2 linked regions of the Homo sapiens genome follow. The protein of the gene in region 1 purifies or fractionates together with the protein of each later gene. This does not show direct contact. Each region holds a gene or a part of one and is shown in the gene's direction. Other genes may lie near its edges.

Evidence for each region.
Region 2: the proteins of NFASC (region 1) and TBC1D10B fractionate together in Homo sapiens (co-fractionation; one large-scale study listed by BioGRID). This does not show direct contact.

The regions. Positions count from the first base shown.
Region 1 is NC_000001.11:204,835,017-204,838,666, forward strand, and holds part of NFASC (neurofascin isoform 1 precursor), read left to right. Parts: intron 1-3,650. UniProt on the Homo sapiens protein: Cell adhesion, ankyrin-binding protein which may be involved in neurite extension, axonal guidance, synaptogenesis, myelination and neuron-glial cell interactions.
Region 2 is NC_000016.10:30,360,452-30,364,101, reverse strand, and holds part of TBC1D10B (TBC1 domain family member 10B), read left to right. Parts: intron 1-3,650. UniProt on the Homo sapiens protein: Acts as a GTPase-activating protein for RAB3A, RAB22A, RAB27A, and RAB35. Does not act on RAB2A and RAB6A.

The DNA.
Region 1 (3,650 bases):
ACCACATCATCTTCTGGAGCAATGTGGAGGCTTATGAGACCCTGTCTTCTGCCTTACAGGTGGTAAGAGATATGTGTCCAAATATAAGTAATATTTGCTAATTCCAGAATGTAAGTTCTAGAAAGCTGATGGAAGATCACATTGGGCTTGGGTGATCTGGAAAAGCCTCTTGCAAGAGGAAGTACTTGAGGTGGGTCTTTTTTTTTTTTTTTTTTTTTTTTTGAGATGGAGTCTTGCTCTGTCACCCAGGCTGGAGTGCAGTGGCACGATCTTGACTCACTGCAACCTTGCAACCTCCACCTCCCAGGTCAAGCAATTCTCCTGCCTCAGCCTCCCAAGTAGCTGAGACTACAGGCATCCACCACCACACCCCGCTAATTTTTGTATTTTTTGTAGAGATGGGGGTTTCACCATGTTGGCCAGGCTGGTCTTGAACTCCTGACCTCAAGTGATCCACCCACCTTAGCCTCCCAAAGTGTTGGGATTACAGGCGTGAGCCACTGCGCCCGGCTGGTGGGTCTTGAGATATCAAGACTTGAAGACTTTCTCCAGGACTACTGGAGAAAAATCATGTGCAAAAGCAGGACTATGTAGAGGATCTTTGATTCATGAAGGTAAATGGCATGGTTTGGGTGGTGGGTGCATGTAATTCAGTAGTGAGGGGTGTGTCTGGAGCAGTATATGGAGACAAAAATCATAGAGAACCCTGAGTGCTAGTCTTTACTCTTCTAACCTCGTTGCACTGCTGTCTCCCTGATTTGCTTCTCTGAGCACGTACGATGCCCAGCTCTGGGAAAGGCCTTCTAGGATGGGAGACTTCTGGCCTCCATGCTGAGCTAGCTTTCCTGGATCCAGTTTGGGCCAACTGGAGTGGATTGATCAGATGCTAAGTTTTGTTCTCAGATCTTGTGATTTTCTGGGATGAGAGTGAATGGCTGGCAGAGCAATTCCAAGAACTTTTCCCAGTGATGAAAATTCCCTTTTTCTTTACTGATGCTGGCCAATTTGCTTTGGCAGTAGCATTTTAAACAACCATTTGGTGAAAGCTCCAATTTCAGGGTCAGAGAATTTCATCACTCTTTTCTTTATATTACTAAGAATTCTCTGAGTTGTGTATTGGGATATGTGTGTGCATGTATGTCTGTGTGTGCGTGTGTGTGTGTGTGGTGCCTATGTTAGTAGAATTATTCCAACTAAGTCTGGTTCTAGTTTTATCTTTATTTGCAGGGTAAAAGTCATTAAATATTTCTAGGCCTTTTTTGTTGTTCAAAGGTGGAAGAATCTCCCCTATATCTTACTGTGTGTTGACCATAAGCCAAATTATTTGAGAATAACAGGATGTTAATTATGAGGAGGTATTATAGCTATCTATCATTTTGACAGAAGGTGTAATATTGAGGTAAAATTTTAAGTCTGTCTCCCTGCCACCTAATTCTTGGAACATCTTGACTCGTGAGACCAGCCAGAGTTTTATTTGGGGGCACCACCAATGTTTATGCTTCTTGTTACTTTTCCTAGTCTGTCTGGGCTTGTGTGTAATTAGTAAATGAAGTTAGTACATTGCTGTCAGGTGTTGGCTGACCTATATAAGATAAATTTATATGCAAGACATTGTTGTCACTGCCATTGTTATAATACCTATTGTGTGGTATTTTTCCACATGTTGGAGGTGAATGTCTTTATGGAGGAAAATGCCTCCAAGGCCATAGATGATATTTCTATGCTGACGTAGGTCAGGGCAGAAACTGGATATCTTTCCGATTATCATCACACACTGAGTGGAATTGAAGCCTTTGTCATCCACATTGGGAGCTAAACCAGGATTCTGTGGCTGGCCTCAGCCCTGGGATATGCCCTCGTTTTGTTTTTGTAAGATATTCATTGCATCTGCAGTTATTATTTGAAGACCCTGCTATGTGCATTGCACTCTTCTAGGTGGAAACTTGTTCTGAGAGAAACCTAAACTCAAAAATGTTAGAAATGTTTTAGTTCAAGATAGTTATTTTACTAATCAAGAAATGACTCAGAAGTGTGGCATGACTGACTTGTGACTGCATGGCTGGTTGCTGGCAAAAGCTAGTTCTGGCAAAACCCACATAGGAACCTGGTAATGATACAAGATGATTGATAGGTAATTAAGTTTCTAAAGCATGATCTAAACTAGAAGTGCTTTGGGATGTCAGACAACAGAGGAAATCAGTGTAGATTAAAGTCTTTGGGGAAGGTTCTGAAGAGAAGTGGGGGTTGGCTTGGGCCTCTAGAGATGGGTAGGACCTGAACAGTCAAAGATAAGAAAATGGCATTTCTGGTGGGGAAAGGAGTGCCCACTCAAAGGGCTAGAAGAGGGAAACAGCTAGTGTGGTCAGGCATGGTGAATTGGCCAGGCTGCAGCAGTGGAAGAAGCGGTCTGGGGCCAGACTGTAGCAAACCTTGGCTTGCTGAGGAGTGAATTTTTTTGGCATTGGTGAGGAGTATTTGAAGCTTCATAGCTGAACACTCTCTTGTTCTGAAGACAACAAGATTGTGGTGTTAGAAGAAGTGGGTGGGAAGTCCCTTCCCAGGCACCTGGTGGTTTCTGAGGGGATAGTTCCTTCTGAAGGATGTTTGGGGCAGACGGGAGTGCTGAAATACACTGGGAAGGAGCTTGTCGCTGTCCAGAGTGCTGACCTGACCTGAGATATTTTTCTCTTCAGTGATGCTGCACTGGAAAGTAACGCCGGGGAATGCTTACAACCAGCCAAGGGGATCTCGAGAATGATTCTGCCTAGGACTAGGCAGCATGTGGGCTTTTTGTCAGTAAAATAGTTACAGTATCTGACTTTATGGTCCTTGTGATGAAAGCAAAAGTGTGGAAAGACTGTGTGTCCACGTATGCAGGCTAAGATGGCCCACTTTGTAGCCTTGTAAGTTTTGCCTTAGAACTTTTGGGTTTACATGAGAATTCCAGCACACTGCTTCTTTCATTATGAAAATGCACACCCTCTATTCAGCATCCCACAGAACACCTAAAGCCTCCCCAACAAACCAGGGGAGAGCAGCAGAACTTCCCAGAACACCGTACTCATTACTTCAAATGAAACATCTAAATGCTTTATATTAGTGCTGTCCAATAGAACTTTCTTTGATGATGGAAATGTTCTGTATCTGCACAGTCTAACATAATTAAGCCACCAATTACATGAGCACTTGAAATGTGGCTAATATGACTGAAGAATTGAATTTTGAATTACATTAAATTTATTTATGTAATTTATATTAGACTGCACAGCTCTATAGAGTCAGAATCTTTGACCTTTGCCACTTACCTCTCCTTATTGATCCTCATACCTAAGCCTCTCTGACTTAGAGTAAAGTGGACTTTTGAGTGGGGGTAAGTTTGACCAATTGTTGGAGAAAGCCCCATGCTGAATCCAAACTGAAGTCTGTGTCTGGCTGTGAGTTTTGCCCTGACTTTCTTGTTTTCATAATGAGAAAAACCATCCATGATGCCCTGCAAGTTTTCCATTCAAAAGCCGAGGGAAGGCTCCTTGGATTCTGTCTGGGGTCTCAGGGACCTGATCTAAGACTTTTCGGAGCCTGGAACGGGAAAGCGATGTAGTGTTTATGGCCCTGAAAAGCTGGCTGTGGGGTGAGGTGGGGTGGGGTACAAA
Region 2 (3,650 bases), on another chromosome or scaffold:
CTTGTTGCCGAGGCAGGAGTACAGTGGCACGATCTTGGCTCACTGCAACCTCTGCCTCCTGGATTCAGGTGATTCTCCTGCCTCAGTCTCCCAAGTAGCTGGCATTACAGGTGCGCGCCACCACACCCGGCTAATTTTTGTATTTTTAGTAGAGACGGGGGTTTCACCATGTTAGCCAGGCTGGTCTCGAACTCCTGACCTTAGGTGATTCACCTGCCTTGGCCTCCCAAAGTGCTAGCGTTATAGGCGTGAGCCAACACGGTCAGCCGGACAATTTTTTAAATCAATAATTCATCCTTTAGCAAATATTTATTGAGCATCTGCTATCTACCAGGCACTGTCTAGTCACAAATGATTGCAGTGAACAAAAAACCAAAAACTCCTCTCATGGTGTTTATATTTTAGTGGGGACAAACAATAAATCAGGGAAAGGAAAGTATATTGTATGTGAAATGATGGTAAGCATTAAGGAGGAGGTTATTTTTATTTTTACTTTTATTTGTTTTTTGATAGAGATGGGTTTTCATCATGTTGCCCCGGCTGGTCTTGAACTCCTGGGCTCAAGCGATCCGCCTGCCTTAGCCTCCTTAAGTGCTGGGATTACAGGCGTGAGCCACTGTGCCTGGGCCTAAAGAGGAGTTTAAAGCAAGAGGGAAATAGAGAATGTGAGTGGGGATGGGGTTACAAATGACTTGATCCTGCTTATGTTTTAAAAGGGTCATTCTGGCTACCATGCTGAGAACAGACTATAGGGAGACAAGGACAGAAACGGACCAGTTAGGAGACTTCCTGTAATCCAGGAGAGGGTGAGAGCTAGACCAGCATGGTAGCAGCGGGAGTATGGGGAGAAGTGGTTGGATTCTGGATATATTTTGAAGGTCGAGTCAAAGGGATTTGCCAATGGATTAGACATGCAGTGTGAGAGGAGAGAGGGGAGTAGGGTTTTTGGCCTGAGAAATGAGAAGAATGGAGTTGCTGTTTACTAATACAGATGGGGTAAAGGTAGCTGTGGGGGGCATATCAGGAGCTCAGTTTTGGAACGTTTATTTTTTATTTTTGTTTTTTGAGACGGAGTCTCGCTCTGTCGCCCAGGCTGGAATGCAGTGGCGCCACCTCGGGTCACTGCAACCTCCACCTCCCAGGTTCAAGCAATTCTCCTGCCTCAGCCTCCTGAGTAGCTGGAATTACAGGCACCCGCCACCATGCCTAGCTAAGTTTTGTATTTTTATTAGAGACGGGGTTTTGCCATGTTGGCCAGGCTGGTCTCGAACTCCTGACCTCAAGTGATCTGCTCACCTCGGCCTCCAAAGTGCTGGGATTACAGGTGTGAGTCTCCATGCCCGGCAGGGAACATTAAGTTTAAAATGCTTATTGGACCTCTAGATAGAGATGTAAGTTCAGTGTACAGTATACACAAACCTGGATTTCAGGGCAGATGTTTAAACTGGAGATAAATTGGAAATTAAGAGTCGTCAACTTATAGAGGGACTAAATCTTACCCACGAGACTGGATGAAGTCACAAAGGCAACAAGTGTAGATACAAAAGGAATTGATGCGAAATGTCCAACAATTGAGCCCTGCAGCTCCAATAGTTTGAGAATGGGAAGATGAGAAAGAGCCGGTAAAGGAGACTGGAATGAGAAGCTAGAGGTAGGAGGAGGACCAGGAGCATGTGATTGGGAGCAAAATGTAGTGGGGTTTCAAGCATCAGCTGTGTGAAATGCTGCTGAAGGGTCCAATAAAGTCCAGCCTGAAAATTGACCTCTGGATTGAACACTGGAGAAGTCATTAGTGACCATGTTAAAAACAGTTTTGTGGCTGGGTGCGGTGGCTCACACCTGTAATCCCAGCACTTTGGGAGGCCAAGGCGGGCAGATCATCTGAGGTCAGGAGTTCAAGACCAGCCTGGCCAACATGGTGAAACCCCGTCTCTACTAAAAATATTTTTAAAAGGCCAGGCGTGGTGGCCCACGCCTGTAATCCCAGCACATTGGGAGGCCGAGGCGGGCAGATCATGAGGTCAGGAGTTCGAGACCATCCTGGCTAACACGGTGAAACTCCCGTCTCTACTAAAAAAATACAAAAAATTAGCCAGGCATGGTGGCGGGCGCCTGTAGTTGCAGCTACTCGGGAGGCTGAGGCAGGAGAATGGTGTGAACCCGGGAGGCAGAGCTTGCAGTGAGCCGAGATCGCGCCACTGCACTCCAGCCTGGGCGACAGAGGAGATTCTGTCTCAAAAAAAAAAAAATTAGCTTGGTGTGGTGGCAGGTGCCTGTAATCCCAGTTACTCGGGAGGCTGAGGCAGAGGTTTCAGTGAGCCGAGATCACGCCATTGCACTCCAGCCTGGGCAACAAGAGCGAAACTCTGTCTCAAAGGAAAAAAAAAACAGTTTTGTGGCTGGGCGCGGTGGCTCACGCCTGTAATCCCAGCACTTTGGGAGGCTGAGGCAGGCGGATCACCTGAGGTCAGGAGTTTGAGACCAGCCTGACCAATATGGAGAAACCCCGTCTCTACTAAAAATACAAAATTAGCCGGGCATTTTATAGGGAGGCTGAGGCAGGAGAATTGCGTGAACCTGGGAGACAGAGTTTGCCGTGAGCTGGGATCGCACCATTGCACTGCAGCCTGGGCAACGAGAGTGAAACTGTCTCGAAACAAACAAAAACAGTTTTGTGTGGAGCAGTGGGTGAAACCCTAACTGGAGAATGGGAGAAAAGAAATTGAAGACAGTGAGTCTATAGGTAAGGAAAGAAACAGTGTGGTATTTGGAGGGAAGAGAGGGGTAAAGAGACTTTTTTTTGTTTGTTTTGAGACAGAGCTTGACTGTCGCCCAGGCTGGAGTGCAGTGGTGTGATCTTGGCTCACTGCAACCTCTGCCTCCCAGATTCCCAGATTCAAGTGATTCTCCCACCTCAGCCTCCCAAGTACCTGGGATCACAGGTGCCCGCCACCACACCTGGCTAATTTTTGTATTTTTGGTAGAGACGGGGTTTTGCCATGTTGGCCAGGCTGGTCTCGAACTCCTGACCTCAGGTGATCCACCCACCTTGGCCTCCCAAAGTGCTAGGATTACAGGCGCGAGCTACTGCGCCTGGTGAAGAGACTTTTTTTTTTTTTAAACTCAAATAACAGCATGTGGGTATGCTTGTGGGAACGGTGGAGAGAGAAATTGATAGTGCAGGAGCAAGGGGAGGGTTGTTGGAGTGGTGGCCTGTACACGCGAGAGGGGATGGGATCCTGGGCCCAAGTGGAAAGGAAGTGCTTGCCAGGATCACAGACTCTTCACCCATAGCAACAGGGAGAAGGCAGGGACACGGAAGCAGGCAGGTGGGTGATGGGTGTGGGTGCTTGTGGAAGTTACATATTTATTTTAATATGCATTAGGTAAAATAACCATATCAAACCTGTCATTTCGTGGATGCTTTTGCAAAGTGGAGAAAAAATGTCAACTAAATAGTAGGGTGGTATGCAGATAAAATACAAATGAAGATCACACTTGAATGCCTGGAGTTTTGGGAAAAGCTATTCTGGGAAGTGGTCAGGAGGAGGATGTGTGAGACTGGAGGCAGGGAGAGGATCTGGGAGGTCATTTTTTATGGGCAAGAAATGGAGGTCTGAGCTGCGAATGGCTGTGGAGGTGGAGAGGAG